Regions from separate parts of the Homo sapiens genome. Here regions 1 and 3 are each linked to region 2. Evidence: fine-mapped expression QTL. A gene starts in region 2. Each other region holds a variant in brackets. All regions are shown on one strand. Distances are from middle to middle. Region 1 holds the start of MIR3674 (microRNA 3674). Region 2 holds the start of CLN8 (CLN8 transmembrane ER and ERGIC protein). Region 3 overlaps CLN8 (CLN8 transmembrane ER and ERGIC protein).

The links. PIP is the estimated chance that this variant, and not a neighbour inherited with it, causes the effect.
Region 1: its variant is fine-mapped to the expression of CLN8 in whole blood (GTEx, PIP above 0.99). The same link has a PIP of 0.9 or more in lung.
Region 3: its variant is fine-mapped to the expression of CLN8 in gastroesophageal junction (GTEx, PIP above 0.99).

What each region holds. Positions count from the first base shown.
Region 1 is chr8:1,795,862-1,806,269 of GRCh38, forward strand. It overlaps MIR3674 (microRNA 3674), which reads left to right and starts at 5,264; the gene lies at 5,264-5,331. RefSeq lists enhancers at 4,195-5,394, 5,228-5,889, 6,550-7,210. The variant A/G (reference allele first, on the strand shown) is at 4,996.
Region 2 is chr8:1,757,899-1,768,306 of GRCh38, forward strand. CLN8 (CLN8 transmembrane ER and ERGIC protein) reads left to right here and starts at 5,891. Exons shown (of 3, transcript NM_018941.4): 1 at 5,891-5,987. It overlaps CLN8-AS1 (CLN8 antisense RNA 1), which reads right to left and starts at 6,686. Exons shown (of 2, transcript NR_134303.1): 1 at 6,536-6,686; 2 at 4,065-5,030.
Region 3 is chr8:1,784,842-1,795,249 of GRCh38, forward strand. CLN8 (CLN8 transmembrane ER and ERGIC protein) reads left to right here. Exons shown (of 3, transcript NM_018941.4): 3 at 1-1,729. Among named protein-coding and RNA genes, the nearest start is that of MIR3674, 11 kb to the right of the region's middle. RefSeq lists a silencer at 445-567. The variant T/C (reference allele first, on the strand shown) is at 4,761.

The DNA.
Region 1 (10,408 bases), 38 kb after region 2:
TGAGCCGAGATCACGCCACTGCACTCCAGCCTGGGCGACAGAGCAAGATTTGTCTCAAAAAATAAAAATAAAATAAATAAATAAATAAACTTTAAATGGCATCCTTAGCTCAACTTGTTCTTGTTCAGGGGTTGCAGTCCTTGGGTAAATAAAATAAATAAATAAATAAACTTTAAACAGTATCCTCAGCTCAACTCGTTTCTTGTTCAGGGGTTGCAGTCCTTGGGTGTTAGCTCTTTGGAGTGGGTGTGTTCCCCCTGGGGTATAAGACACTGGTCGGAAGATCCCAGGTGAGGTCTTCCCCAGAACTGGGGTTGGGAAGGGAAAGAGTCTGGGCTAACCACTCCATTAGCTGCAGCCCTACCGCCAGCACCTGGGGGCAGGGAGTTACAGTCAAACTCTTAAAAAACAAATAGCCGAAAGTGCAGTGAGGTTAAGCATCCCCTGAGGACTGGACGAGCAGACCTGCCTGCTTTGCAGAAGACGGGGAGGGGAAGGAGAGCAGGGCCATCTCCTGCCCAGCCCCGAGCCTCCCTGATAGTCCTCCCACCCACCCAGCTCCGGATGATGCTCCCACTCACAAGATTGCTGCTTTTTCCATAGACCGGTAGGAACTCCAGGCCTTTTCTCCAGCTGTCCCTGAATTCTCCTTGTTTCCTTCCTTCCTAACTTCCTCCATCCAAGGCTGGAGGCCCCAGTTTGGAAATCAGGACCCACGTCCCCCTCCACACCTTCCTATTTGTGTAGTTCTGTTTCGAGTCTGGACTCAGTAAATCTCTCTGTCCTCCTGGACCAGGTGTTGGCGCACTGGGGCTGCCGTGGAAACTGCCCTGGATGTTTCCCAGTCATTACAGATCCCAAGACACTCCTAGGTCCCAGATCCCCAGATCTGGAGGAAAGGGGCCCCTTCTGCCAGGCTTCCTCCCTGGGTCACAAACTCACATCTGCCTGGACTCCCACTGCTGTCTCTCTCTTTCTCTCTCTCTCCCCTCTTTTTAACTGTCCACTAGGTTTTATGGATAACTCCTGAGAGAATGTCCCAGTCTGCTTACCATCACATTGATCCCGCCCACCAGCATTGAGGCTCTGCACTGTCTCCCCTCCCTTGCCTGTCCAAAGCCCCTTCCACCCGGGACCGTCGCCCCTTTACACTCAGGGGTACTGGTCCATCTATGCCATGCTGAGAGCTGCTGCCATGAAAAGACCCCTGGATCTCACCCCCTCCAGCAGCTACCTCTTCTCTTTCTAGAGAAACCACCTAGAAGGACTTCCTACACACACCAGCCCCACCTCCTCTTTCCTGTTGTCTCTTAGGCCCAAGGCCCACCACAGTGCCCTTTGCCCCCCACAGTCACCCCTGCCAGGGCACCGGCGGCCAGCACTTGCTCCACCAACCCTTCCTCCAGAAGAGCTTTTTTGGGAGGGATCCTGGAGCCCGATCCTGGTCCCCCTCCCATCATCCTAACCTCCTCCTGTCTTTCTTCTCCATCTGTAGGATCTTCCCAGGCAAAGTCACCTGTAAATCACATCCATACCCAAGAAGCTCCCAAAATCTCACTTCCAGCCCAGACCTGAATACTGGGTCAGCTGACACCTTATCTGGAGCATCACACACTTTCTACAGCCTCAGGCCACCCACACCAGGGCTTTGCTTTCCCCCACAAGGTGCTCTTCTTCCTGTTACCTCCATCTCGGTACAGGGGGCTGCTCTCCTTCCAGGTGTTGCAGTCAAAACTTTTGGGATTTTTCTTGATTCCTCTTTCTCTTCAAACCCACTTCCCATCCCGAGGCCCGTCCTGTTGACCTAGCCTGTTCATAATAAAGCCCTGCGCCCTTTCCTCCTCCTCTAGTGGTTGGATGAGTGTTCGTGTACCAGTCACTAATTTGATCCCAGAGTCTCCACTAGAGACAGGAGATGCCTCTGCACACACTGACACACACCGAGTGTCACAGCAATTCCACTGGTGGGAGACAGACACCCCGGAGCATTTCAACAATCGCTTTTCTCTGTTGAAGTTTTCTTCTGCCCCATTCACTGTCTCCTCTGACCACACAATTTGGTTTTGCCTCTTTCTCCATGTCGAAGGCTTCCTTGTGTCTGGTGGTCTTCGACTATTTATTTCTCAGCATGAGGCACTGAGAAAGGATGTGGAACCCCGGGTGTGCGTGTGTGTGTGTGTGTGTGTGTCTGTGGCATAAGGAGGTTTGCCTGTGGGACCGGGGATAACCAGGGAGGCGCGTGGGTCTCATACTGAGGAACTCTTGAATCACGCAGATTTTTCTCATGGGTGTGTTTCCCTGAAAGGAATTCTGGGGTCCCTGGGGTGCGGGGCGGAAGGATCTGTCATGCTGTCCCCTGGGGTGCGGAGCGGAAGGATCTGTGATGCTGTCCCCTGGGGTGTGCGGCGAGAGGATCTGTCATGCTGTCCCCTGGGGTGTGCGGCGAGAGGATCTGTCATGCTGTCCCCTGGGGTGTGCGGCGAGAGGATCTGTCATGCTGTCCCCTGGGGTGCGGGGCGGAAGGATCTGTCATGCTGTCCCCTGGGGTGCGGGGCGAGAGGATCTGTCATGCTGTCCCCTGGGGTGTGCGGCGAGAGGATCTGTCATGCTGTCCCCTGGGGTGCGGGGCGGAAGGATCTGTCATGCTGTCCCCTGGGGTGCGGGGCGGAAGGATCTGTCATGCTGTCCCCTGGGGTGCGGGGCGAGAGGATCTGTCATGCTGTCCCCTGGGGTGTGCGGCGAGAGGATCTGTCATGCTGTCCCCTGGGGTGTGCGGCGAGAGGATCTGTCATGCTGTCCCCTGGGGTGTGCGGCGAGAGGATCTGTCATGCTGTCCCCTGGGGTGTGAGGCGGAAGGATCTGTCATTCTGTCCCCTGGGGTGCGGAGCGGAAGGATCTGTCATGCTGTCCCCTGGGGTGCGGAGCGGAAGGATCTGTCATTCGACTGCCACAACTCTTGGATCCAAGTAGGCAAAGGCCACTGTTCTTTCACTCCTCCTGCTTCCCATTGCTGCCTCAGGATCTCCATGACAGTGTCTTCTGGCCGATTCCTCCTGGGCCCTCCGAGCTGGGCTGGGGCTGCCACCTGCCCTCCTGGGTGTGGAGCAGGACCTGGTGATCCTGTGCCTCCTGCTTTCAGCCTCGCCTGATGTCCCCTTTCAGAGATGCCTGAAAGGCTCTCCCTGTAGCTCCGGTAGCCTCCTCTGGTTGGCCTCACCGGTGCCCATTCGTCCATCATCTGTCCATCTGCCTCCAGCCCTCAGACTTTGCCATGGCCCTCTGCCTTTCACTGTCTTGGCACTGGACCATTGTATTCCTCCTCCTGCTCCTCCTTCTTCTTCTCCTCCTCCTCCTCCTTCTTCTTCTCCTCCTCCTCCTTCTTCTCCTCCTCCTCCCCCTCCCCCCTCCCCCTCCCCCTCCCCGTCCCCCTCCTCCTCCTCCCCCTCCTTCTCCTCCCCCTCCTCCTCCTCCTCCTCCAATTCTTGTTCTTCTTCTTCTTCTTCTTCCTCTTCCTCTTCCTCTTCCTCTTCCTCTTCTTCTTCTTCTTCTTCTTCTTCTTCTTTTTCTTCTAAATGGAGACAGGGTCTCACCATGTTGCCCAGGCTGGCCTTGAATTCCTGGCCTTGAACAATCCTTTTGTCTCGGCCTCCCAAAGAGCTGGGATTACAGGTGTGAGCCACTACACCCGGCCATGCCTTCTATCTTCTTTCTCTACTTTCAACACTTAAATATTTTTAGCCAGGTTTCAGCAGGAAATGGATGGACATGAGGGCTCTGTCTGCCTGTTGGACCAGAAGCCCTTGCATCTGATCTAAACAAACCCCTTCTTGCCTTTGTTAGGGTTTCTGCTTGGTTTTATTCACAAAATTGACGTCTCAACTCTAATATTTATGTTCTTGTCACAGACAACTGTGATAGACTAATCAGTTACCTAATTGTCCTAAACCCAATCTTTTAATAAAATCTGGTTTCTTAGGACCTGGAGCGACAGGTTTGCGAGAAAGCTCCTCCCTGGATGAGGCCAAGAGCGTGGGAGTGAGTTCCAGGCTCCCAGAAGTGGGAAGTATTTTGGAAGTATTTTGGATTTAGGCGGTAAAGAATTCCCTATAAAAATAGCTGAACAGATTGGCCTCATATCACTGTGGGACTTTCTTGGAACATGAGGTGAGGTTATGGGTTGGCTTGCAAATAAAACCAAACACATTTCCCAATGAGGGAATGGGGCTGTGGTTAGGATGGGATCCGTGGGGGTTCTGGGGTGCTGGCAGGGCTCTGCTTGTGATCTGGTTACATAGCTATTTGCTTTATAATCATTTAGTAAATGTGTGATTTGTGAATTCTTCTGCATATGTTTTATTTCACAATAAAATGTCAACTTTTTTTTAACAACTAAGCAAAGTTAAGAACAATGCAGTGTAATTTCCTCGGAAATACGCTTTGACAGTTATTTAATTGGGCAAGTGGAAAATTACTTTTTATGAAGATGGTTTCTGCATATCATGAAAATGCCGTGTGCTGAACCATGCAGTAAGTGAAAGCGTCTAGATAAGGGCAGCCATTTGTTCTTCCCGATAAGGCACTCTCTACTGTTTTCTCTGGAATCAAACTGGCACGCCTGATGACTGGTGTTTTTATAAATCAGTGAGTATTTACATGTCTCAAACAGGCAAGTTTAAAACCACAAAGTCAGGGGCATGTTAAAAATTTGACTTCGGGTCTTAACGATCCACTGATCTTTTCATTTCTTCATTTTGGGTCCGGCTGCTTTGCATGAGGATGTTTTTCTCCCGTCTCTTATTGCCTGGCTTACAGGAGAGTTGGGTGATAGGAACACAAGGAGCAGAGAACGCACTGGCCTCTGACAGCCGCTCTGTGCAGATTCAGTCCTTCAGCCACCCGCAGGAATTGCCGCCAGAGTAGGACATGTCTTCTACCCTCTTGGAAGTGATGAAACCACCTTTCAGAAATTACAGCAGTGAGAAAACTATGACGTTG[A/G]AAGATACCTGATCTAACCAACCCCCATCCTGCCTTTGACCTCCAAACTGTCTTTCATCACTCCTAGGCCTGGGCCAAACTAATTTTGGAAGATATTTATAGTTTAAACGATAATAGCCCTTCTCCCGAACTGAACTGCCTGTGTAAAGCTAATGAAAGGCCAGTAGGTTAGGAGGATGAGAGGAGCCTGGATTCTGCTAAAATATAGATGTAAACGACGACCAGCCATTACTCTGGAGGTCACAAGATTTGCAGCTTCTGCAGATAAACATCACTATTGTAGAACCTAAGATTGGCCGTTTGAGATGTCCTTTCAAGTTTTTGCATTTCTGATGTCCGACTGATCCTGTGGCCCCACTCAGAAGCGGACTCCCTGGCCTGCTAAACTACCCTTGAAATACAGTAGCCTCCAAATTTTCAGGGAAATTGATTTAAGTAATGGTCAGGCCTCTGAGCCCAAGCCAAGCCATCGCATCCCCTGTGACTTGCACGTATATGCCCAGATGGCCTGAAGTAACTGAAGAATCACAAAAGAAGTGAATATGCCCTGCCCCACCTTAACTGATGACATTCCACCACAAAAGAAGTGTAAATGGCTGGTCCTTGCCTTAAGTGATGACATTACTTTGTGAAAGTCCTTTTCCTGGCTCATCCTGGCTCAAAAAGCTCCCCCACTGAGCATCTTGCGACCCCCACTCCTGCCCGCCAGAGAACAAACCCCCTTTGTCTGTAATTTTCCTTTACCTACGCAAATCCTATAAAACGGTCCCACCCTTATCTCCCTTCGCTGACTCTCTTTTCGGACTCAGCCCGCCTGCACCCAGGTGAAATAAACAGCCATTTTGCTCACACAAAGCCTGTTTGGTGGTCTCTTCACACGGACGCGCATGAAAGGAATAACTCCATCTCCCACGTGGCGTGGCTGGCCTCGTGTCAGTTAAACTTTCTTTATTGCAACACCATGGTTTCAGTGAATTGGTTTTCTCTGTGCAGTGGGCAGGAGTTTTAATTTCTTAATTTTGTAGCCAGCCTTCAGGCGGTGACAGTGATTGGACAATCACTTTAGTAGCATGAGATACTGAGGCTACTGCACTCGGATGGAATGGGCAGGAAACATGACTTGAATGCACCATGGACTCTACACCAGCATCTGTCCCCTGCAAAAGGGGCTCTGGGAACTAGAACAGTCATTCCCACCTTCTGAGCGCATTAGATCACTGCAGGGAGCATTGGAACGTGCTTTCCTGGGCCGCTCTGGGCCCAGGCTCCCATGTGAGCATCCGTTTTAAACCAAAAATAAAATTCCGAAAACCAAAAGCCCCCCATCCAACTGAATGGACCCCTACTCTTGGCCAAGAGGATTCCAAACAAACCTGAAAAACAAGTCAGGCCGGACGGGAAGGGGAGGGTCTGATACGCCTCATTGTATCCTCTCCCTTTGGGGTCAGGAACAGCCGATGGCATTAACATTAACACAGAGACCTTCGGACTGACCAGACAGGCTCTGGAAGTGATAGGAACAAGGCCTAGGGTGCAGGAGGAGCCTCGAGGGCTCAGCTGGGCTAGCCTGGGTGGAGGGGCCACAAGAAACCCCTGAAATGACAGAGGTCAAGTTTCATGGCCAGAAAGACTGGAGTCAGAGTGAGGAAGGGGGATGCAGTGGCCAGCCTTTGCTGGGAGCTGCCTCTGTGGCCACACCCAAAACTCCTCCCCCTGCATCGGCCACTCCAGTCCTTACGGTGGAACCACAGGCTCTTGTGAAAGGAAGATAAATCTCGAGACCCCAAGTCACTAAGCCAAAGGGAAGAATCAAGCTGGGAACTGCATCAGGGAATCCCGCCTCCCATTTTACTTAAAACTGCAGATGCAGGCTGGGCATAGTTGTTCACACCTGTAAGACCAGCACTTTAGGAAACTGAGGCAGGAGGATTGCTTGAGTCCAGGAGTTTGAGACCATCCTGGGCCATGTAGCCAGGCCCTGTCTCTAAAAAATAAGAAAAAAATGCAGATTCACTAAGCCAGACTAAGGCAAGAGTGACTGTTCCTCTACCCCCCTTTCACATGTAAATTGTGTATTTGGTGAAAGAAGGGCTAATCCCAGACTCAAAAGAATGCAACTGTTTGTCTCTTATCTGCCTGTGACCTGGAAGCCCCCACTTTGAGTTGTCCCATCTTTCCAGACCAAACCAATGTGCATCTTACACCTACTGATTGATGTCTCACGTCTCCCTAAAATGTATAAAACCAAGCTGTGCCCCGACCACCCTGGGCACATGTGGTCAGGACCTCCTGAGGCTGTGTCACGGGCTCATCCTTAACCTTGGCAAGTAATATGGTTAGCCTTGTGTCCCCACCCAAATCTCATCTTGAATTGCAGTCCCCAGGGACACAGCTGGCCGGAGGTGACTGGATCATGGGGGCGGTTCTCCCCATGCTGTTCTCGCGATAGTGAATAACTCTCACGAGATCTGATTTTTTTTTTTTTTTTTTTGCGACAGAGTTTTGTTGCCAAGGCTGGAGTGCAGTGGCGTGATCTTGGCTCACTGCAACCTCCACCTCCCGGGTTCAAGCGATTCTCCTGCCTCAGCCTCCCGAGTAGCTGGGATTACAGGTGCCTGCCACCACACCTGGTTAATTTTTGTATTTTTAGTAGAGATGGGTTTTCACCATGTTGGCCAGGCTGGTCTCGAACACCTGACCTCAGGTGATCCACCCTCCTCGGCCTCCCAAAGTGCAGGGGTTACAGGCGTGAGCCACTTCGCCCAGCGATCTGATGGTTTTATAAAGGGCAGTTGCCCCAGGCTCTCTCACACTCGCTGTCCTGCTGCCTTGTGAAGAAGGTGCCTGCTTCCCTCTTGCCTTCCGCCATGATTTTAAGTTTCCTGAGGCCTCCCCTGCCATATGGAACTGTGAGTCAGTTCAACCATTTTCCTTTGTAAACTACCCAGTCTCGGCTATTTCTTTATAGCAGTGTGAAAGTGAACCCACACGGCAAAATAAACTTTCTAAATGGATGGAGACCTGTCTCAGATACTTTTGAGTTCACACTTTCATCTGTGGGCTGTGGTGTAATAGCATCTTTTCAAGCCTCCCTGTGGAGGTGGGATCTTTTGGAGTGATTATTTATTTTTCTACGATGTGTAGCTTAATTTATGGTCTATGTACATTTTCCCCTTTGCAGCAGCTAACCTTCACTCATTTACTATAGTGATTTTTAGAATTTTTACTGTTTGTCAATAACTTCCTTTGCAAAGTGTTCCTGCTTTCTGGCATGACTTTTTTATTTTATTTATTTATCTTTTTTAGACAGAGTCTCGCTCTGTCACCAGGCTGGAGTGCAGTGGCATGATCTTGGCTCACTGCAACCTCTGCCTCCCGGGTTCAAGTGATTCTCCTGCCTTAGCCTCCCAAGAAGCTGGGACTACAGGCACACGCCACCAGGCCCAGCTAATTTTTGTATTTTTAGTAGAGACGGGGTTTCACCATGTTGGTCAGGCTGGTCTCGATCTCTTGACCTCATGGTCTGCCTGCCTTGGCCTCCCAAAGTGCTGGGATGACAGGTGTGAGCCATGGCGCCTGGTGTGATTTTTCTGTAACTACATCCTACTTATTCTGGACTAATGAGAAAATAGCAAGGGTGTCCATCTTCATCAACACTGCCTTGTTTGGACAGTTTGGTACAGGCTTCAAGGTTTCAGGCCTTAAGCTTTTGCAAATCACTTGCTCAGAAAAACTGGGGACAGCAGGCCCATTTATATTCATTTTAAACACTTGACAAGAGGAAGATGTCATTTTACAAAGGGTAAATGTTTCTTTGGGTTATGCTGATAGGTTACTGTTAGTGCTAATTTAAAAAGACATGGTGTGTCAAAATATGGCTAACTGGTTCTTATATATTTCTTGCTAATTCAGCCATGAATAAAATGGACTTGTACATATTGATACTTCTTATCTATTAAAGAAATCCACTCATTGTTTTAATCAGTATATAAATGTAATAAGTATTAGTTTTGGAAATACAAATTACAATAAAGAGGGAAACAGACCATGTGTTAATATCTTGGTAAATTTCCTTCCTGTTGGTTCTCCTGTGTGTCTGCCCAAGGCCATGCACTAGCAGCGTTTCCTATGTTTGATTCACACCTTGCATAACTTACACACACTCCAGAGGTGGGTTTTATTCCCATCTGTACTAGTTTTAGGTGCGGCTGGGAGACGTGGAAGGAGGGACATGGCATGGCCACCACTGGGCGGGAGAAGTGAGCCTGCTTCTCCAGGATCTGCCTCTCCTCGCCTGTGGACCCAGCTGCTGCTCCTGCTTCTCCAGGGCTGTGGACCCAGCTGTCTCCTGGGTTTTCCTTGGGGCTGATTTTCACATGAAGCTGCTAATTTGGTATAGGAACACTCGGGAGTTTTGGTTTTCATTTCAACATCATCCCCTCCCCACCCTGCCCCCAGATAATCCTGTAACTCCAGGTCTCTCACTCACCTGTACAAGGAAGGTTTTGAAGTGGAGGCTACCTCATGTCCTATCCCCTAAATATTTTCAGTAATATTTGTATCAATGGATTTTCTGAACCTTTAAAAACTAGAAATTCTCTCTCTCCACACAAAATATATATGCTGTACATACTATATATAGTCATAAAAATGTATATACAAAAATTAAAAGTATATGTAAAAAGGGGCTGGATGCGGTGGCTCACACCTGTAATCCCAGCACTTTGGGAGGCCGAGGCAGGTGGATCACCTGAGTTCAGGAGTTCGAGACCAGCCTGGCCAACATGGTGAAACCCCATCTCTACTAAAATTACAAAAATTAGCTAGGCATGGTGGTGGGCGCCTGTAATCCCAGCTACTTGGGAGGCTGAGGCAGGAGAATCGCTTGAAATCAGGAGGCAGAGGTTCAGTGAACTGAGATCGCACCACTGCACTCTAGCCTGGGCAACAAGAGCAAAACTCCATTTCAAAAAAAAAAAAAAAAAAAAAAAAAAAAAAAAAAAATATATATATATATATATATATATACACACACATATACGCAAAAAGGAGATTTTAATGAATATATAATTTTGTCAACTAAAAAATACAGAAAAAAAAGAATGGCTAAAAATTATTGGGTCTACAACTTTAGAAATTGAATAGTAGAACAAACCAAAAGTATATTGAAGGGAGAAAATAAAAATAAGGCCAGAATTAATAAAGCAGGAGATAGTAATTCCATGGGTACAAATGACAGAATGGATTTTGAAAAGACAGAAAAATTGGAAACCTCTAGCAAAATGATCAAAGGGAAAAAGAGACAGAGAAAAAGCATGGAGGTGCAGACCAACAATCTGAGACGTGACTTCAGAGTGTCCACGCAGGACCCCGCAGAAGTAGGTGAGTGTGGCCTTCCCAGGTGAAGGGGGCT
Region 2 (10,408 bases):
CTCAAATAGCAGAAGATTCAGGATCGTCTAGCTTTCATGTTGGAGGAGACTTTAGGGACCAATCTCATCCTTTTACACTTGTGGCTCAGAGAGGTTAAGCAACCCCTCCAAGGTCACACAGCCAGCAGAAGTAACACCCAGCATAGAGATCACCAAGACAGCATCAGAGCCCTTTAGTACGATATCCCGAGTGTCCCGCATGCAAGCCATCGGCACTGTGTTTTGTGGCTCAATATTTTTCAGTTTTTAAGAAAGATACACTTTTTGGAAAAAGAAATGGACACAGTGAATGCCCGCATCAGCAGAAAGACAGTTTTCTATAATGAGTTCTTTTTCTCTTTATTTCTAAGGTTTAATTTTGCCACACTTGCTAAAGAAAACATTATACACGGCCCTTATTAAAGAACGGTAAGACAGACTTGTCAACACAAAGAGTCAAATTTGTAAATTAGTTGATGAGATTTATTCTGAGCCAAATATGAGGACTTTGATTGATGACACAGCCCCATGAGGTCCTAAGAACTGCTGCATAAGGTGGTTGGGTTCTAGCTGGATTTTATGCATTTTAGGGGGACAGAAGTTACAGGCAGAAAATAAGAAAAGGGCAAGACGATCCCCTGCCACCTCCATGACGTCATTTCAGTTCTCTTCTCCAAACACCTCACAGTATCGTATTTCAAAATTCGGCTTTGTCATTTAGCAGTGTGTGGAGGTGTACATGTTGCCAATCGATACATGTAAGGTGTCCAGTGGTTTGGTCCAGAAAGGTGACACAACTCCATGGATGCAGGTGGAAGGTGTCCAGGTCACAGATGGATTCAACGATTTTCTGATGGGCAATTAATTGAAAGAGTTAAGTTATTATTGTAGAGACCTGGAATGAATAGAAAGGATTGTCTGGGTTACGATAAAGGTTGTGGAGACCAAGGTTTTTTATCTTCAGAGCTCTTATTGGACCTAAAAGAGGTGCCAGACTCTTAGTTAAATCTCTCCTAGATCAGGGAAAAGACCTGGAAAGGGAAGGGGATTCTGGCAGGATGTGGATTTTCCCCTCAAGAGACAGCCGTGTGGGGCCCCTTCAAAATATGTCAAAGAAATATATTCTGGGGTAAAATGCTTGATTTCTTCCAGGGCCTGCTCTCTATCATGTGATGCTATACTAGAGTCAGGTTGGAATGTAGTATCTTATTGCTACAGAGTCTGTTTTGTCAACCTTAAGATCTCTGCTTTGACGTTAATGCAGGTCAGCTGTGCCTGGATTTCAACGGAAGGCGGGTATAAGGAGCCTGTCCCACCCCCACTTCCCATCACGGTCTGAACTAGTCTCTAAGGTTTACTTTGGAAAGCTCGTGGCTAACGGGGTTGGCGGGGGACTAGAATTTTATTTTTGTTTTACAGTCTCAAAGGAATCGCGATAGGTGCAGGGGCCACTGCAGTGGGACTAGGCTCAACTCTGAGTGTAAGAAGAAAAACGGGAATGTACAGCCACGGAGAGGGTGAGAACGGACGGAAAACTATGAAGAGGCTACATCAGGCCAGGGGGGTTCTTGCTAGAACCACTTGGTAGGATTCGTGCCACAGGCAGGCCAGGTGATAAGATACCGAGGGTGAGGGATGAGGAGTATGATATCAGGGGCGGGGAACTGTCACTGCATTGACCCAGCAGGATTCTTTTGGACGAAAGGGGACAGGGGTCCAGGTCAGAGCCTTGAGGGCTTCGAGGACCCTGCCTGGAGTTAGGTCAGGTAGAGTCTTTGCCACATTGAGGCTGAGAAGCTGAGCAGCTGATCTGCGGGAGTCCAGAGACCCTCATGCTTCCTGCAGATGTGCTGTCAGCAGATCCTGAACTTGGGTTCCAGTGTTTTAAAGTGTTGTTTGCAAGCACCGCGGTCCTGCTCTCCCACTCACAGAACTACTATTGCTCACTGGTGAAGGACACTGGATTTAAAATCACAGACGTTCTTTTTCGCCTCTCGCTCATTATACATCCCTTTGAGGACACCGTCATTTTGCTGTTTAGGAGGAAGAAACAGGCAGAAGAGAACTCCTCCCATCCCTCCGCTAATGGCTTTTAAAACAGTCTTTTTTGTAATGGAACAACCAAACCTCACAATGAGCGTATATTGCTTGTGTGACCAGAAAGTAAGACAGTCCCCTGACACCTCAATTAAGTCATTTTGGTTGTCTACTCCAGACACCTCATGGCATCGTACTTCAAAATTCAGCTTTGTCATTTAGCAGTGTGTGGAGGTGCACACATTGCTAACCTCAGGCTCACTGAACACTGTTTTTTTTCTATGACGTGGATAATGGTGCCTGCGTCAGACACCTGTGATGTTTGAAAGAACCAGTTTATCAAAGTGCTTAGCCTGACGCCTGACACGCTGTGCACCCAAGATAAATGTTTGTTGTGTCATTCGATCTGTCGAGGAAGGAGGTGAGACACTTGTGGGTGGCAGGGCGGGAGGGGAGTACACAGGCTGTAAACAGCAGTGCCCAAGCTGAGACGGAGCAAGCTGGGAATCCGCCCGGGTTTCATTCAGTGTTCCACACCCCGCATGGATACTGGTTATACCTGTGATCAGTTATGCCTGTGATGGTTTTTTAGAAAACAAAACTATTTTATCACTCTGCTTTAAAGATGGCCGAGTGGAAAGACACAGTCCTGGAATGTTTAAATTCAAGCTGAAGAGCTTACTAGCCACGTGACTGAGCAAGTTATGGTTCCATCTTTCTAAGCCTCACTTCATTCTTTGTTAAGACAGGCCTCAGCATGCTGTTAGTAGGAATCTAAGGAACCCAGTGCTGATGGAGAAAGGGGTCCAGTCCAGACCCTAAGAGAGAGTTCTCGGATCTTGCGCAGGGAGGAACTCAAGGCAGTCGCAGAGTGCAGTGAGAGACAGCTGCTCTGATACAGAGTGGGGAGCCCGCGGAAAGCAGGAAGAAGAATGTGCCATCTTTGTTTCAAAGGCATCTTGTATCAATGTAAAAGCCAAGCTACGTGTAAGTGCAGGTGGGCTGGCAGTGTGACAAGATCTAGTACTTGGTGGATGTAAATAACGTTATCCTTGGCATTTCAGTGCGTAACTACATCTAAGCATGACTATAGCCATCTTTTTTTTTTTTTTTTTTTTTTTTTGAGATGGAGTCTTGCTCTGTTGCCCAGGCTGGAGTGCAGTGGCATGATCTCGGCTCACTGCAACCTCCGCCTCCCAGGTTCAGGCAATTCTCCTGCCTCAGCCTCCCACGTAGCTGGGATTACAGGCTACTGTAACTGCCAATCAGGTTCATGTTGCCTACACAGAGCTGATTTATCCAAACAGGTGAACTGCATAGAGAAAGAATAATCCACACAGAGCTGGCTGTGCGGGAGACCAGAGTTTTATTATTACTCAAATCAATTTCCCCAAGAATTCGGAGTTCAGAGTTTTTGCTGTTGTTTTTGAGATGGAGTCTTGCTCTGTTGCCCAGGCTGGAGTGCAGTGGTGCGATTTCAGCACACTGCAACCTCCGCCTTCAGGGTTCAAGCAATTCTCCTGCCTCAGGCTCCCAAGTAGTTGGCATTACAGGCGTGCACCACCACGCCTGGCTAATTTTTGTATTTTTAGTAGAGACGGGGTTTTGCCATGTTGGCCAGGCTGGTCTTGAACTTCTGACCTCAAGTGATCCGCCTGCCTCGGCCTCCCAGAGTCCTGGGATTACAGGTGTGAGCCACCGTGCCCAGCCCTGGAGTTCAGAGTTTTTAAGGATAATTTGGTAGGTAGGGGGCCAGTAAGCTGGGAGCACTGAGGGGTCAGATCAGAGATGAAATCGTATGGATCAAAGCTGTCCTCTTGGCCTGAGCCGGTTGCTGAGTGCGGGCCACAAGATCAGATGAGCCAGTTTATCCATCTGGATGGTCCCAGCTAATTCAGCAAGTGCAAGGTCTGCAAAATATCTCAAGCACTGTTGTTAGGTTTTTCAATAGTGATGTTATCCCCAGGAGCAATTTAGGGAGGGTCAGAATCTTGTAATCTCCAGCTGCATGAATTCTAAACCATAATTTCTAATCTTGTGGCTAATTTGTTAGTCCTACAAAGGCAGTCTAGTCTCCAGACAAGAAAAGGATTTGTTTCGGGAAACCATAAACTAAGTTTCTTCCAAAGTTAGTTTGGCCTACACCCAGGAATGAACAAGGACAGTTTGGAGGTTAAAAGTAGGATGGAGTTGGTTAGGTCAGATCTCTCACTGTCTCAGTTATAATTTTGCAATGGTGGTTTCACTGGTTTTAAGATGGAGTTTATTTTATTTTATTTTTATTTTTTTGAGACAGAGTTTCATTCTTGTTGCCCAGGCTAGAGTGCCATGGCGTGATCTCAGCTCACTGCAACCTCTGCCTCCTGGGTTCAAGCAATTCTGCTTCAGCCTCCTGAGTAGCTGAGATTACAGGTGCCCACCACCACACCCGGCTAATTTTTTTCTCCCAAACTGCTGGGATTACAGGCTTGAGCCACCGCGCCCGCCAAGATGGGTTGTTGATTTTAAAACGATGTCACCCTGGCTCTCCTAGGTTCCTGTTCCCCTAACATCATGAAGGCTGCTGGCAGTTCTCTGGCCTCCAGGGAGGCCTCCACACACATTTACCCATGTTCTTAGACAATCCTAGGGACTCAAGGCTTCAACAAACCTAAATGAGCCAGCAGAAAAATAAACTTGAACATGAATGTCAACGTTTTCCCACATGTACTAAAGGGTTATAATAATTTTGAAATGTTTATTTCAAAGAGCGTTGGTAATTTAAACGTCCTATTTAATCCCCAAAACAGTCCTGAGGGGGAGATAAGGCAGTTATCTTCATAGTACAGGAAAGGAAAAAAGCGAGGGTCCAAGGCCGACTATACCCTCAGCTCCATTAGCCCCCGAGGCCTCCCTGACAGGCGGGGCGGACAATCCCAGTGCAGATGCTCTGTATCGATCGCATGCTATCGGTTCTTTCAAGGAACGTGTATTGATCATCAATTAAGTGGTGAGTACTCCTCTAGATGTCGATTCTAAAGAGGGAACAAAACACATTAGACAGAAGAAACATAAGTAACTCGAATAACAACCTTAGAGAGAAGAAACATAAGTAACTCGAATAACAACCTTAGCAAACTGCGGAAACTCCTACAGACAAAAACTCAGGTGTGGGCGCAGAAGGGCCGGGGATGCGCTCGGTCAAGACTTGAAGGTCCGGGGCTTGGGCCCTGTGTCCTCACCGAGCCCCGGGGAGGCTCCGGCTCCGTCCACACCCGGAGCGCGACTCAGCCGCGGCCGGGGCTCTTCTGGAGAACGGCGCGGTCAGGCTCTGCCGCAGCTTTCAGGTCCCCTCGGCCCCGTCCGGGTGCAGCGCAACCAGGCTGCCCGCGGAGCCCCACCGCCCCCATGCCGCCGCCCGCCATGGTTCAGCCCGGCCCCGCCCCTCCCGCCGGCCGTGGTTCAGCGCGTCCACCCCGCCGCCCCACAGCGCCCGCCGCGCCGCGCCCCGCCCCCCGCCGCGCCCCGCCCCCCGCCGCGCCCCGCCCCCCGCCGCGCCCCGCCCCCCGCCGCGCCCCGCCCCCCGCCGCGCCCCGCCCCCCGCCGCGCCCCGCCCCCCGCCGCGCCCCGCCCCCCGCCGCGCCCCGCCCCCCGCCGCGCCCCGCCCCCCGCCGCGCCCCGCCCCCCGCCGCGCCCCGCCCCCCGCCGCGCCCCGCCCCCCGCGCCGCGCCCCGCCCCCCGCCGCGCCCCTCCCGCGCCCGCCGCCCCGCCCCTCCCGCGCCCGCCGCCGTCGTAGCGCCTAGGCGGGGCCTCTCGTAGCGACGCCCCCAGGGGGGCAGAACGCGTGCGCACGCGCGTGCGAACGCGCGTGCGCGGGCGGTGTTTGAGGCCGGCCAGTCGTGACTGGGCGGCAATGAGGTCAGTGACTGCCGGGAGTCCTGCAGGGGCGGGGCGGCGCCAAGCGCAGGGAGCCCGGCTGAGTGGCAGCCCAGGTGAGCGCTCAGGGAGCCCGGGTGAGGGCCGGGAACCCAGGTGAGGGGCAGCCCAGGTGAGCGCGCGGGGTGCCCGGGTTAGGGGCCGGGAACCCAGGTGAGGGGCAGCCCAGGTGAGCGCGCGTGGAGCCCAGGCGAGGGGGCTGGGAAGCCCGGGTGAGGGGACCGGGGATCCCAGGTGAGGGGCCGGGAACTCAGCTGAGGGGGAACCCAGATGGGCGCGCGGGAGCCCACGTGAGGGGGAGCCCGGGTGAGGGGCCGGGGTGGCTCCTGGCGTCCGCGGTCCCAGCCCTGCCTTCCGGTGGGCGTGCGGCACCCCGGGCCGTGCGGTTCCCGGACAGCAGCTTGTGGGGGACTTTCGAGCCCCGCAGCCCGGGGTCCTGCCTGCGCGGGTTGGGCGTGGGGGGCTCCTCACCGCGACGCTGACTTTGGAGTCCTTGAGCGGCGCGGATGCCGGACGGAGGGAGGGGACAGGCGGAGGCGGAGGCGGCGCCGTCGCCCCTGACCTCGCTTCCCTCAGACCGGCTGGGCAAGTACGGTCAGCTCACCTGTGTGCCCACGAGGCGGGGAGGCGGCTCCTGCAGAGCCACAGAGGTGCCGTCGGAGCTGCTGTCAAGGACAGCAGGTGTCACGTGGGTGTGGCCTCCACTGGTCACCGAGTTAGCTGGGGCGGAAGGGGACAAGGTGCAGCTCAACATGGTGTGGGAGGCGGAGGGACGCTGGGTCAGTCAGAACCTGTAGGAGCGGGGAGGGACGCTGGGTAAGGTCACCAAAGTGTGCGGGGGAGAGAGCGGGCGCTGGGTCAGGTCAGCAGGAGGTGGGACCCGCCTGGGCTCTGGGCCCTATAGCCAGCTGCTCTAGGTTGGGGTTGGGTGTGGACAGTAGGGAGGGGAGCCAGGGGCTCCCCAGCCTGTGTAGATTCTGCTGTAAGTGACTCTTCTCTGAAAGACTGGCGCGAGGCGGCTGCTTCTGACTCCTGTTTCAGTTTACCCTCTGTGTGAAATCTGTAACTATCCAGCTTCTGCTTACCTCACTCCCGTATTTTGATTTTTATTTACATACAACTTTTCAGGAAGGTTGTGAGAGGAAAGAGCAATGGTGCAGGAAGTGTGAGTGATTGAGGGAATATGAGATGGCCACAGCTCCCCACTGAGCTTGAACACTTCTGTGCCTCACTTTCAGATTGGCCGTCATGGAGGCTGTGGTTGTTAAGGAAGTTCTTCCTGAGCATCCAGTTTCCATACAAAGAGCACAGGTTCTCTAGGTGGCCTCAGAGATGTTCAATACACAATGTCTTCTGATAACGAGGAACTGGGCAAAAGCCTGGTAGGACACCGGGTAGGTAAATGGTGGAGTCCCTGCAACCGTGTTGCAGAGGAGGATTAGCTGTTGCTGAGAGAAGAGAAGCAGGCCGGGGAGCAGCTTGTATACTGTTATCCCCTTTTATGTAAAAAGAAGAGTTTATATCTAGAAAAACAATTGACCCAGCAGGCACCAAAAAATAGTGATGGTGCTTGGAGCTGTGTAAGAGGATTGTAAATTTTTATTTTTGTATTTTTATGCTTGTTTATATTTTCTGAATTTTGTGTATTAAACATGTATTTCTGTTGATTTTGGAAAACATTTTTACAACCCATCAATGTATAATTTTCAAAATGTTAGAAGTATAATTCTCATGTAAATAGCTCTTGTCAGGTTATATTTCAGTCATTAATGCAGTATACAGCAGGATAGGAATGTCAGTTCAAAAGAGAATACACAAAACTAGGATTTTCTTAGTGAGTGGGTAACAGGAATGCTGAGAGAAGATTGCCAGATTAGATAATAAGATTGGTGAATATCCTGTGTGCATTGAAACCACAGCCTTTGGGATTGTCTTTTCTTCTTGATGGAAAGGAGAATTAGCTTTGCAGATTGTAAAATGCGTGACCCACAATCAGTGGTAAATAGTTTAGTTATTTCTCCTAGAAAGTCAAGTGATTGTTGGGGTTGTAAAACACTGAACTTGCGTTAGCAGGGAAAAAAGCATGCAACCTTTTTTTTCCCTTTTGACGTCACTTCCAAGTTTGGATAAATTATCTCAATGAAAAACAAAAATGCTGGTATCCATAGCAGTTTAGCCCCCATAAACCGGAGGAGCGCATAGATGCATGACAGAGTCGAAGGGTTCCAGTGGCCACTGAGCCTGGTTCCTGGTCACACTGCAGCAACAGAGCTAACACTCTTACTGATGTGTTTGCATTCAGATTTTTAAAAAACTTCATGGCCCAGTGCAATAGAAGAGCTGAAACCACAGAATCTTATAAGACAAGCTTTTTGTATACATTTTCTCCAAAGAAAATGAAGATCTGCAGCGTCAAGAGATGGTGGCCTTCCAGGAGTTGTTTATTCTCCGGCTCCACTTCCTCTACTGCAGAGAGGAAAGGGGCTGGTGTGGAAGGGCTTGGAAGCCTTCCAGAATGAAAGAACCAGATGAGTCCATTAGGTTCGGCCTCCAGTTTTTTGTTTTTTTTTTTTTTTTTGAGACGGAGCCTCACTCTGTCACCCAGGCTGGAGTGCAGTGGCGCTATCTCAGCTCACTGCACGTTCCGCCTTCCAGGTTCCCGCCATTCTCCTGCCTCAGCCTCCCGAGTAGCTGGGACTACAGGCGCTCGCCATCACGCCTGGCTATTTTTTTTTTGTATTTTAGTAGAGACAAGGTTTCACCATGTTAGCCAGGATGGTCTCGATCTCCTGACCTCGTGATCCTCCCACCTTGGGCTCCCAAAGTGCTGGGATTACAGGTGTGAGCCACCCTGCCCGGCCGATTCGGCCTCCAGTTTTACCCATGGAAGGAACAGTGACTTCCAGCTGTGCATTACACTTAAGGACTCCTTCATGTGGCCTGAGCCTTATGGTGCACAGCAAGGGAACAGTGGGAACCCCTGTGTCCCATTTTGCGTATCAAGAGTGAGAGGGTGTGGTTGGGTCAAGGAGCAGAAATAGAAGCAAAAGGAGAAGCTGAGCTCTTCCCATACCCCTTCTGTGCTGCCTGACAGAACAAGGCCTAGCCACACTTCTGTGGGTGCCCACCTTGTGACTTGGGGTGAACCACAGCTGTTCTCAGTACAACGCTGATGCCACGAAAGGACAGCAGAGCTCTGCAGGACTCCAGGAAGACTGGGCGCTTGGGCTGGATCCTGCCTCTGGGACTGGCCTTCTACCCTCATGGCTGAGAGAGCTGAGGAGTTCACCTCCTTTGTGAACTCCTGGCTGGAGGATGCTGGTTGGCATTAACTAAACTCAGAGACCCACAGTAACGAGTTAGACTAGAACAGCACCAGCTTACCCAGAAAGTCAGGAGGTTTGAGCAAAGAATCAGAATGGGGGATTCACTACAGGACTGGAAGGGGAAGTAAGCATTCTGGTCTTTATAATCTGCTGTTTCTGCATCCCTAATTGGCACCTGTTCTCTGACTGCCAGGAGGGTTTGCCCACTCAGCTGTGGCTTACCTGTTTCTGTTTCCATGTCTTTCACCTATCTGCCACTTTTCTGTAGATATGGTAATCTCTCCAAAAAGATATCTAGAAAGCTTGAAGACCTGGTAGCTATTTGCTCTTATGGTGAAGATCACACAAACTAGTTGAACATCTGGCTTGTAGTAGGTGCTTCATTTCCCGCTGCTCTGTATGTTTCTTTCTTTTTTTTTTTTTTTTTTTTTTTTGAGACGGGGTCTCATCTTGTCACCCAGGCTGGAGTGCAGTGGCGCAATCTCAGCTCACTGCCACCTCCACCTCCCGGGTTCAAGCGATTCTCCTGCCTCAGCCTCCCAAGTAGCTGGGATCACAGGCATGTACCACCACGCCCAGCTAATTTTTTGTATCTCTAATAGAGTCGAGGTTTGACCATGTTGGCCAGGCTGGTCTCGAACTTCTGACCTTGTGATGCACCTGCCTTGGCATCCCAAAGTGCTGGGATTACAGGCGTGCGCCACTGCACTCGGCCTGCTCTGTGTATTTCTTTTTCCTGTAGTCAGATTCTGGGGTCCAGGGTGGTTAGGAAAGAAACTTGTTTTCTTTCTTTCTTTTTTTTTTTGAGATGGAGTTTTGCTCTGTTGCCCAGGTTGAAGTGCAGTTGTGTGATCTCGGCTCACTGCAACCTCCACCCTCCTGGGTTCCAGAAATTCTCCTGCCTCAGCCTCCTGAGTAGCTCAAATTACAGGTGCGCACCACCACGCCTGGCTGATTTTTGTATTTTTAGTAGAGGCAGGGTTTTGCCGTGTTGGCCAGGTTGGTCTTGAACTCCTGACCTCAAGTGATTCACCCACCTTGGCTTCCCAAAGTGCTGGGATTACAGGTGTGAGCCACCACACCCAGCCTGAAACTTGGTTTCTTAGCTCCTAAATAGTGAAATCAAGATCAGAGCCCACTAAGCCAGCCGC
Region 3 (10,408 bases), 27 kb after region 2:
GCTGCCTGGCAAGACCAGCGGCTGGAGGTGATGTCCTCAGTAGAGAACGGTGGCCACTGGAAACGTGTGGCCAGAAGGGGAAACGCTCGGGCCTCTGGTGGGGGCCAGCCTGGGGTGGGGTCGGCCAGGGTCAGCTGCCTTTCCTTCATGCTGGGGAGGAGATGTTGTGTGCATGTGAGAAAGCATTTGATAGCATGCCAAAAGTTTCCTCCATTATGTGCGTGTCAAGTGTTTGACCAGGTCAGAACTCTTGTTCTATGCGAATGTGCTCACGCAGACAGAAGCGGAGGGGCTCCGTCGCTCTGCCCTCACGCCGCTGAACCGCGAGGGTCTCCCGCTCCTCAGGCTTGCGGCTCGGCCGCGAAGTGTGTCAGGTGTGCATCCTGGGTGCTCCTTTGTGCTCTGTCCTACGGTGACACAGGCGGCGTGGGGTTAGACAGGTACCGGTCAGACTACGGTGACACAGGCGGCGTGCGGTTAGACAGGTACCGGTCAGATTACGGTGGCACAGGCGGCGTGGGGTTAGACAGGTACCGGTCAGATTACGGTGGCACAGGCGGCGTGGGGTTAGACAGGTACCGGTCAGATTACGGTGGCACAGGCGGCGTGGGGTTAGACAGGTACCGGTCAGATTACGGTGGCACAGGCGGCGTGGGGTTAGACAGGTACCGGTCAGATTACGGTGGCACAGGCAGCGTGGGGTTAGACAGGTACCGGTCAGATTACGGTGGCACAGGCGGCGTGGGGTTAGACAGGTACCGGTCAGATTACGGTGGCACAGGCGGCGTGGGGTTAGACAGGTACCGGTCAGATTACGGTGACACAGGCGGCGTGGGGTTAGACAGGTACCGGTCAGATTACGGTGGCACAGGCTGCGTGGGGTTAGACAGGTACCGGTCAGATTACGGTGGCACAGGCGGCGTGGGGTTAGACAGGTACTGGTCAGATGCACGGGCTCCCTAAACCCCTGCTGTGGCTTCGGCAGTAAAGACAGGACGCACCCATGTCACAAGAGGAGCACAGGCAGGGGTGTTGGTGTTGGGGCAGCCCTCAGGGTCTCCAGACCCCAGCCCCACTCACACAGCAGCCTAGGAAGGAAGGGCAGAGTCCCAGGTGTCAGCTGGTGGGTCTCCCAGGAGCTGCCCCTCCCTGGAAGTCACAGGACAGGAATGACAGATCAGGGAACTGCAGGAAGCTGCCACCTCTGGGGTCAGAATATGCCCAGCCTGCGGGGGCTCTCTATCGGGGTCTTCGAGAGCCAGACAGCCTGCCTTGTGCTGCATACCTGGCTTTGCTCTGTGCAGAACCCAGCACACGTGATTTTGTGTGACATGCCAGCAGCCTGGCTCCCAGGACAGGAGGCCTGCCCTGGGGGAGGGGCTGCAGGAGGAGGGGGGGCAGGCACCCATGAGTCTGTCCAGCCTTGTCACAGATGCATCGCCCACCCTGCGGTCCTGATTTCAGCTCACCTCAGAGTAAATCAGAATAAACTGCACCCAGACTTTCACGAATGCATGTTGACGCTTTCAGTTCACCCCTTTCTTTGCTAACTTTCTTCCTATTTTCTTCTAATGCGAGAGCTTATTAATTCCATATTTATCATTTTGAATAACTTTTCTCCTTTTTAGTAACAAAATGTACTTCACTCTTAGTAAAATGTATTTACTATTTTAGTAACAAAAATATACTTGCCTAATCATGTTTAAAATATAGTGATGTGAAAAATTCAGACGTCTCTATTTCCTTTCTTCCGATGACTCAACCCCAAATGTCTGGAATTGATTCCGAGGTATCCAGGACCCACAGCCAGCCATCCAAGAGGAAAAAGAAACCACACCCTTCCTTCTGGGAACCTGGCCAGGAACCCCAGAGCACAGGCGCCTGGCCTTAGTGACACTTCTTTTCCACATCTGCAGGCCCATGGAGTGAATTCATTTCTTTTCTCTCTGCATGTATTTTGCTTTTACCGTTGTGCTGTTTCACGCTTGGCAGCCTCAGTTAGCACTCCAGCCCGCCTGAAGCCGTGCACAGCCCATTCCTGCAGGGTTTGATACCTGCAACCTCAAACCCATCAAAAGAGTCCAAAAATTAAACCAAAGTTAAAATCCTCCATTATTACAGAAAGTTATTAAATGTCAAGTCTCAATCTGAAAAGTTTCTGCCAAAACTTTACATAAAAAACTTTTTTTTTTTAATTTAAAACAGGTTCTCTCTATCGGCCAGGCGTGGAGTGCAGTGGCGTGATCGTGGCTCACTGTAACCTTAAACTCTTAGGCATAAGTGATCCTCTTGCCTCAGCCTCCAAAGTAGCTAGGATCACAGGCGCATGTCACCATGCCTAGCTAATTTTTAAATTTGTTGTGTAGAAATGGGGTCTTGCTGTCTGGCTCAGGTTGGTCTCAAACTCCTGGGCTCAGGCAGTCCTCCCATACTGGCCTCCCAAAGTGCTGGAATTACAGGCATGAGCCACCGTGCCTGGCCTACACAGAAAAGTTTTATAGTCCTTGTAACGTTCACGTTTTCTGTGTTGTTTTTCAAAAATCATATGGGAAATGCAAAATCCCAATTGGAACACAGTGCATTTTAGCTGCTGTTTCATTTGTTGCAAGGAATTTCCAAGCATATCTGGTCAACCCCAGAGATTTTGTTTCCACACAAAACAATCACGGAGCACAGAACGTTAGAGCCATAGAGTGGTTTTGTGGCAACAGCCAAAGCTTAGAAAGGTGGAGGCCACCATGCGATATTCCCATTGTGTGTTTTCTGTAATTTCAGATTATCTCAAATAGAAAGCACGCAGCCCTTAAAAAAATAAAGCTCAGGAAAAATCTCATTTGCTAAATGTGGCTTTTTACATTTTAATTTGGAACTAGTTGCAGGACTGGAATTGCATTCTGCCAGCGTCGGTCCCTGGTCAGCCAGTCCTCTGCCAGCTGGTGTCTGTCTTCTGGCCCTTGGCATGCACACAGCACAGTTCTGGCCACTGAGAAGGGGAGGGCTTGCAGCTGAGTGCGTTTGCCTTTGCAAGTGAAGGCAAGCCTGGATTGAGGACACCTTCCCGCCCCTTCCTGCCTCCTTTTTCCTTGAAATACAGTCCCGATGCCTATAGGGGCACCTGCCGTTGGCACCATGAGGGGCAGGCATGAGGATCCACATCCACACTCAGGCATGGGAAGCAACGAGTGGCACAGCCCTGGGCCACCAGCCTGGGGTCCCATCACGCAAGGAAAACACCGGCCTGACCGCAAAAGTGAAGGAAACGCCCCACCTGCCGTGTTCACCTTTACCCTTTCTCACAGACGTTCCTAAACACACAGGATGAAGGTGTTAACCTGCTAACCATGTTAACCACGTGAATGATAGAAAGCTCTCCCTAGGAGACACTTACGGTTTGCAACTGTGGACTTTTAAAAATCATCTTGGCTGGGAGGGGAGACAGAGTGGAGGGGCTGGACTCGCCGCCTGCATCTCAGATGCTGCAGCTTCAAAAGGAGGCTTCCTGGTTTAAAGGAAGTTGCTCTGTTCCGTTTTATTTTTGTTTTTAGCTTCTTATTTTGAACTAATTTCAAACTTACAGAAATTTGAGGGGGAAAAAAGAACAAATCTTCCATATACTCTTTATCCCTATTTATCTATTTTTAACTTTTTGCCACGTTTGTCATAGCAGTGTCTCTTCCCTTTCCCACTGTCTCTGTCCCTCTCCTTGCCTCTTCCTCTTTCTTTCTTTCCCCTACGTTACTTTATATCCCTTACCCCTTAATACTTTCGTGTTTATTGGCTGGGTACAGTGGCTCACATCTGTCATCCCTGCACTTTGGGAGGCTGAGGCGGGTGGATCACCTGATGCCAGGAGTTCGAAACCAGCCTGGCCAACATGGTGAAATCCCATCTCTACTAAAAATACAAAAAATTAACCAGGTGCACACCTGTAATCCCAGCTACTAGGGAAGCTGAGGCAGGAGAATTGCTTGAACCCGGGAGGTGGAGGTTGCAGTGAGCTGAAATCACGCAATCTCATTCCAGCCTGGGTGACAGAGTGAGACTGTGTCTAAAAAAAAAATAAAAAATTCAATGTTTATTTCCTAAGAATAATGATATTCTCTTATGTAACCACATAAGCTATCAATTCAAGAAATGTAACATGGAGCCAGTACCTTTTATCTCATCTACCGTTTTCATTCCAACTTTGACGGTTTCTTTCCTATCCTTTTTTTTCTTGGTCCAGGACGGAGTACCAGATCACATGCTCTGTTTAGTAATCATATCTCTTTATTCTTCTTTAACCTGCTGCAGTTCTTCAGCCTGTCTTTGTCTTTAACAGCAGTGATATTTCTGAACAAATACCAGCTGGTTATATTAAAGAATGCCCTCAATTTGGTTTGGTCTGGTATTTTGTCAGGATGGAATTCGAGTTATATATTTCTGGCTGGAGTGCTCTGTAAACGGTGTCCTTGAGATATCAAACACAGAGACGTCTGTCAGCTTGCCCTGATTGGCAATGTTAATTTTGGTCCCTGATAAGGTGGTTCCTCCTCTGAACAGTCACTGATTTTCCTCGTCCTTGGGTATATTGCGGGAGATCTGCTGAGGCTGAGAACGCCCTGTCTGCACATAAAGCTGCCTCCTGCCCCAAGCTGGCCTCACTGGCACCAAGTCACGTTTGCACTCAGTTGGGTCAACCTTCACGGTGATGGCTCAATATTGCTAATTTTCCAACTCCGTCACTTCTTACTGCATTCTATAAAGAAGGGCTACTTTCT[T/C]CCCAGTGTTTGTTTATTATCCCTGTGGGTTCTTGGATTCTCTGTTTGGCAACGGTATTCTATTTATAGTGGGTTATAATTGATTGTTGTTGTGATGTTGCTGCTCCCGTTGTTCCAGGTTTGCTGTGGGGGTCTCTTCAGGCTGTTGAATCGTCCTTCTTTGTACCAGTCCTTGTTTTGAGCACATCCTTATTTTCTTTTTTCTTTTTTTTTTTTACATGTCTGCATTTCTTTTTATTATTATTATTATTTTTATTTTACTTTAAGTTCGAGGGTACATGCGCACAATGTGCAGGTTTGTTACATATGCATGTGCCATGTTGGTGTGCTGCACCCATTAACTCGTCATTTACATTCGGTATATCTCCCAATGCTATCCCTCCCCCTCCCCCCACCCCACGACACGCCCCGGTGTGTGATGTTCCCCTTTCTGTGTCCAAGTCTTCTCATTGTTCAATTCCCACCTATGAGTGAGAACAATGCGGTGTTTGGTTTTCTATCCTTGTGATAGTTTTATCAGAATGATGGTTTCCAACTTCATCCATGTCCCTGCAAAGGACACGAACTCATCCTTTTTTATGGCTGCATAGTATTCCGTGGTGTATATGGAGCACGTCCTTCTTTCTTTTCTTTTCTTTCTTGCTTTTTTTTTTTTGTGACAGAGTCTCACTCTGTTGCCAGGCTGGAGTGCAGTGGCGGCTCACTGCAACCTCTGCCTCCTGGGTTCAAGCGATTCTCCTGCCTCAGCTTTCCAAGTAGCTGGGACTACAGTCATGTGCCACCATGTCTGGGTAATTTTTGTATTTTTAGTGCAGATGGAGTTTCACTTTGTTGGCCAGGATGGTCTCGATCTCTTGACCTTGTGATCCGCCTGCGTCGCCCTCCCAAAGTGCTGGGATTGAAGGCGTGAGCCACGCACCTGGCCACGTCCTTATTTTGTATGCAGCAGACACACGCCTTCTCTGCCGTGTGGTTGGATCCAGCCCTTTCTCTGAGAATTCTGGTTCTTTTTAGTGAGGAATGGAATTTAGAAGTTAAGATGTGGGTGGGAGATGTGCTCATTGCTCATGGGCCATCAGAACCTCCACACCCTTCTACCTCTGCTGCAACCCAGCCCCACGGCACTTCCTTGCCTGCCTCATTCCTGTGCATCCCGTCTTGCATGGTGACGACCCCGGCTCACAACAGCAGAGACAGCATCACGCATGGCTCAAACACGCTGTAACACAGAGCAGGTTTGGAATGGCTCCACCCACAGGGCCACAAGAAACAAACCCATGGAGAGTTCCAGATCTGTTTGCAGCTTTTTTCTTTAGTCTGAGGGTATGCAGTCAAAGTGCTGTCTCCAAAAATTACTTAAATTTGTTTTGTCCCGACTCCCCTTCAGATGATGGCTAATCATTTGACAGACACTTGGGTTCCTTTGTTGGCATTCTGTTGTAGCATTTTCCCCGATTCTTGATAATTTTATTATTTGAATATGTAAAATGTCATGATTCCAAAAGTTAAAACTATTCAAAAAGCTGTGCCCAGAGAAATGTCTTCTCCTCTCTATTTCTCCTGCCCTGTTTTCTCCAAAAGGAACCAGTTCGTTTATTTTAACAGCTTTCCTGAACTATAATTCATATACCATAAAATTCACCCGTTTAAAGTGTATTTAGTGTTTTTTAGTATTCATGGAATTGTGAAACCACCGCAATCAATTTTAGAACATTTTTATCACCTAAAAAAAAAAAAAAAAGTATTTGTCCCCATTAGTAGCTATTACCCATTTCCCGCCCCCCGACCCTCACTCCCGCCCCCCCTCCCCCCGCCCCGCCCCAGTCCTCCTCCCTGACCTTAGGCAACTGCTATCTTTTTGTCTCTATGGATTTGCCCATTCTGGACATTTCCTATAAGGGGAATCATACAATACATAGCCTTGTGCAGCTGGCTTCTCTCACACAGCACCATGTTTTCAAGGTTCATCCGTGTTGTAGCGTGTACCAGTTCTTTATTCCCTTTTATTGCCAAATCATACCCCATCGTATGGATTGACCACATTTTATGTAGCTGTCCATCAGTTGATGGCCATTTGCGTCATCTGCCCTTTTTGGCTGTTATGAACAGTTCTGGGATGAACATCATGTGCATGTTTTTGTGGGGACATAGGCGTCCCCTCTCTTATGTATTCCGCTAGGAATGGAACTGCTGGGTCCCACTGCTGGTTAGATGCTGAGGAACTGCCAGACCGTTTCACGAAGCACCTGCACTCTTGGCTGCTTTACGCTCCCTTCAGTGCGTGAGGGTTCCGGGCTCGGCACATCCTCAGCAGCCCTTGTTACTGCCCATCTGCGTCGCGACCGCCATGCTAGTGGGTGCGCGGTGGTGCCTGAGTGTGGCTTGCTTCCCATTTCCCTGATGGCTGATGACGCTGAGTGACCTCACTGGCACCTGGCCCCTTCGTGTGTCTTCCTGAGAGCAACGCCTCTTCACATCCGGTGTCCTTTTGGCCTGGTAGGGTAATTCTTTGATCGTGGAGTTGGAAGAGTTCTGGATCTATTCTGTATGCACACCACTTATGAGACACCTGGTCTGCACAGACCTCTTTGCACTCTGGGGCTTGTCTTCTCACTCTCTTGATGTTTCTAGAAGTTTCTATGTTTCTTTTGTTGTTTGTGGTTTTCGGATCATATCACAAAAGGCTTTGCCTAACCTGAGACTGCAAAGATTGACACTCATAGTTTTTTCTGAGAGTTTTCTAGTTTTACCTTTTACATTTAGGTCTTTGATCCCTTTCTAGTTTATTTTTCTACTTAGATTAGTTAACCTGTTCTAGGCCGTCTTACACATGAAATCATGCAGGATTTTTTTTACAGAAATCCTTCTTGTTACAATTTCAGCATTTATATTTTTGAAAAACATATGTCTTTCATCTATATTTCCTAACTAATGTAACATTTTTTAAAAAGTACTTTTTTATGTTAGCAAATCTCTCTATATCTGTAGGGTCTTTTGTTCTATATTTTGTTGATTTGTATCTTACTTGCTTGTTTTTTGGTTTGATTGGTCTTTTTCAAGCTCTACTTTATTAATCTTTCTAAGAAGTAGTGGTTTTTTTGGCTAATCTTTTTGATAAGTTTTTATTTGTTTCTGTCCTTATATTCATTATTTCCTTTCTTCTTGTTGTTTTCAATGTATTCAGTGTTTCTATTCAGTTTTCAGATTTTTGTATTGAATATTTTGTTTTATTTTGAAGTTTTCTTGCTTCCTGTAAATACATTAGAAATTATAAAATTTCTTTTAAGTGCTAATTTAACATTGTTTCACAAAGTGTGACATTTTTGTTTTTATTTTCATTTGGTTCTAAATATTTTGTAACCCTCTTCTGGTTTACTTTTAAACCCAAGGGATATTTAGTAATGTCATTTCCTTTCCAAAAATGTGGTATTTTAAAACTTCTATCCTTTTGTTATTTATTTCAAAATTTATTTTACTATTACATTAGAACACACTTTGTTGCTTTAGAGTTTATTGTGTTTCTTTCTTGCTAAATACATTTTTCATGATATATGATCAAATTGTGTAAACATTCTATGCATTTTTAAAAGTATAGTCTCCATCGGATGCAGAGTTCTATGTAAATATAATAATTTAGAATTTGTATGTTTCAAATCTTTGATGTCTGCTATTTTATATGTTTTAAGAAATATCTAGTATAATTGCCAACTTATGTTTTTCTCTGTAGAGTTGTGTCAGTTTTTGCTTTTTTTTTTTGAGACGGAGTCTCCTCTGTCACCAGGCTGGAGTGCAGTGGCGCAATCTCGGCTCACTGCAACTTCTGCCTCTCGGGTTCAAGTGATTCTCCTGCGTCATCCTCCCGAGTAGCTGAGATTACAGGCATGCGCCACCATGCCCAGCTAGTTTTTGTATTTTTAGTGGAGATGAGGTTTCGCCATGTTGGCCAGGCTGGTCTCGAAAACCCTTGACCTCAGGAGATCCGCCCGCCTCGGCCTCCCAAAATGCTGGGATTACAGACATGAGCCGCTGCACCCGGTCAGTTTTTGCTTTTTTAAAGAAACATGCTTAAGTACACATGTGATCATGATGGTTGCATCTTGTTCATCTGTTTCCTCTTTCAGGTGTGTAACAGCATGCTGTTCGCTGATTGCTTTGGACTTGGCAGATAGCAGGGCTACTATCTAGTTTTATATTGATTCCAATTTGCCTAGTACTTCTTTTTCTATTTATTTTAAACTTTTTAGTATCCTTTACTTTTAAATATGCTTCTCTTGGAAAACTGTTGATTCTTTCTTTATAAATCCAAGCTTCGTATTGGTGTTTTAGCTCATTAAGTTGATTGTGTCTGGTTGCAGCAGGACTTTATTTCTGCCTCCTTCATTCATAATTGGCTTTTACATTCATTTCTTTTTCCCTAAGTTTCTCCTATCGATTTTAATGGTGGTTACCTTTAGTTTAAGATCCACATCAATACATAGCTAATCGTATTGATTTCCTGAGCAGATTAATATTAAATCTTTGGACTCCCATGTTGATTCTGTTTAAATATTTACTTTTGCATTGTTGTAAATGTACTTCATCTTCTCTCCTCACTTTGGTCCTGGCCTTTTTTTTTTTTTTTTTGAGACGGAGTTTCGCTCTGTTGCCCAGGCTGGAGTGCAGTGGTGCGATCTTGGCTCACTGCAAGCTCTGCCTCCCGGGTTCACGCCATTCTCCTGCCTCAACCTCCCGAGTAGCTGAGACTACAGGCGCCCGCCACCCCGCCCAGCTAATTGTTTGTATTTTTAGTTGAGATGGAGTTTCACTGTGTTAGCCAGGATGGTCTTGATCTCCTGACCTTGTGATCCGCTCGCCTCGACCTCCCAAAGTGCTGAGATTACAGGCGTGAGCCACCGCACCTGGCTGCTCCTGGCTTTTTTAGATAACAATAGACTACTAAAATCTATTTGATCTAAAGTTTTTTATACCCATAGTTCCTATCAACATCCTCCTGGATTTATTTATCTTCTAATTTCCTTGAAGAACGTTTTCAAAGTGAGTTTTGGAAAAGTGGATCTTCTGAGGCCTTTTATATTGGAAGATAATTTGGTATGTGCTTATACTTCAGTGACAGTTGAGCTGGCTATAAAATTCTATGTCAAATTCCTTTTTTTATGTTTTATTTTATTTTATTTTATTTTATTTTATTTATTTATTTATTTTTTAGACAGAGTCTTGCTCTGTCTCCCAGGCTGGAGTGCAGTGGCATGATCTTGGCTCAGCTCACTGCAACCTCCAACTCCCTGGTTCAAGGGATTCTCCTGCCTCAGCCTGTCTAGTAGCTGGAATTACAGGCATGCGCTGCCATGCCCAGCTAATTTTTGTATTTTTAGTAGAGACGGTGTTTCACCATGTTGTCCAGGATGATCTCCATCTCCTGACCTCATGATCCACCTGCCTCGGCCTCCCAAAGTGCTGGGATTACAGGTGTGAGCCACTGCACCTGGCTTCTATGTCAAATTATTTTCCTTGAGGGCTTTAAAAATATTACTCCAGTGTCTTCTGGCACCCATTGTGGCCTCTGGAAACTCTGAAATGAAACTTACTCTTTTGTCAGTGATCTGCTCTTCTTCATAGAAACTTTTGGAATTTTCTTTGATATTCTTGAG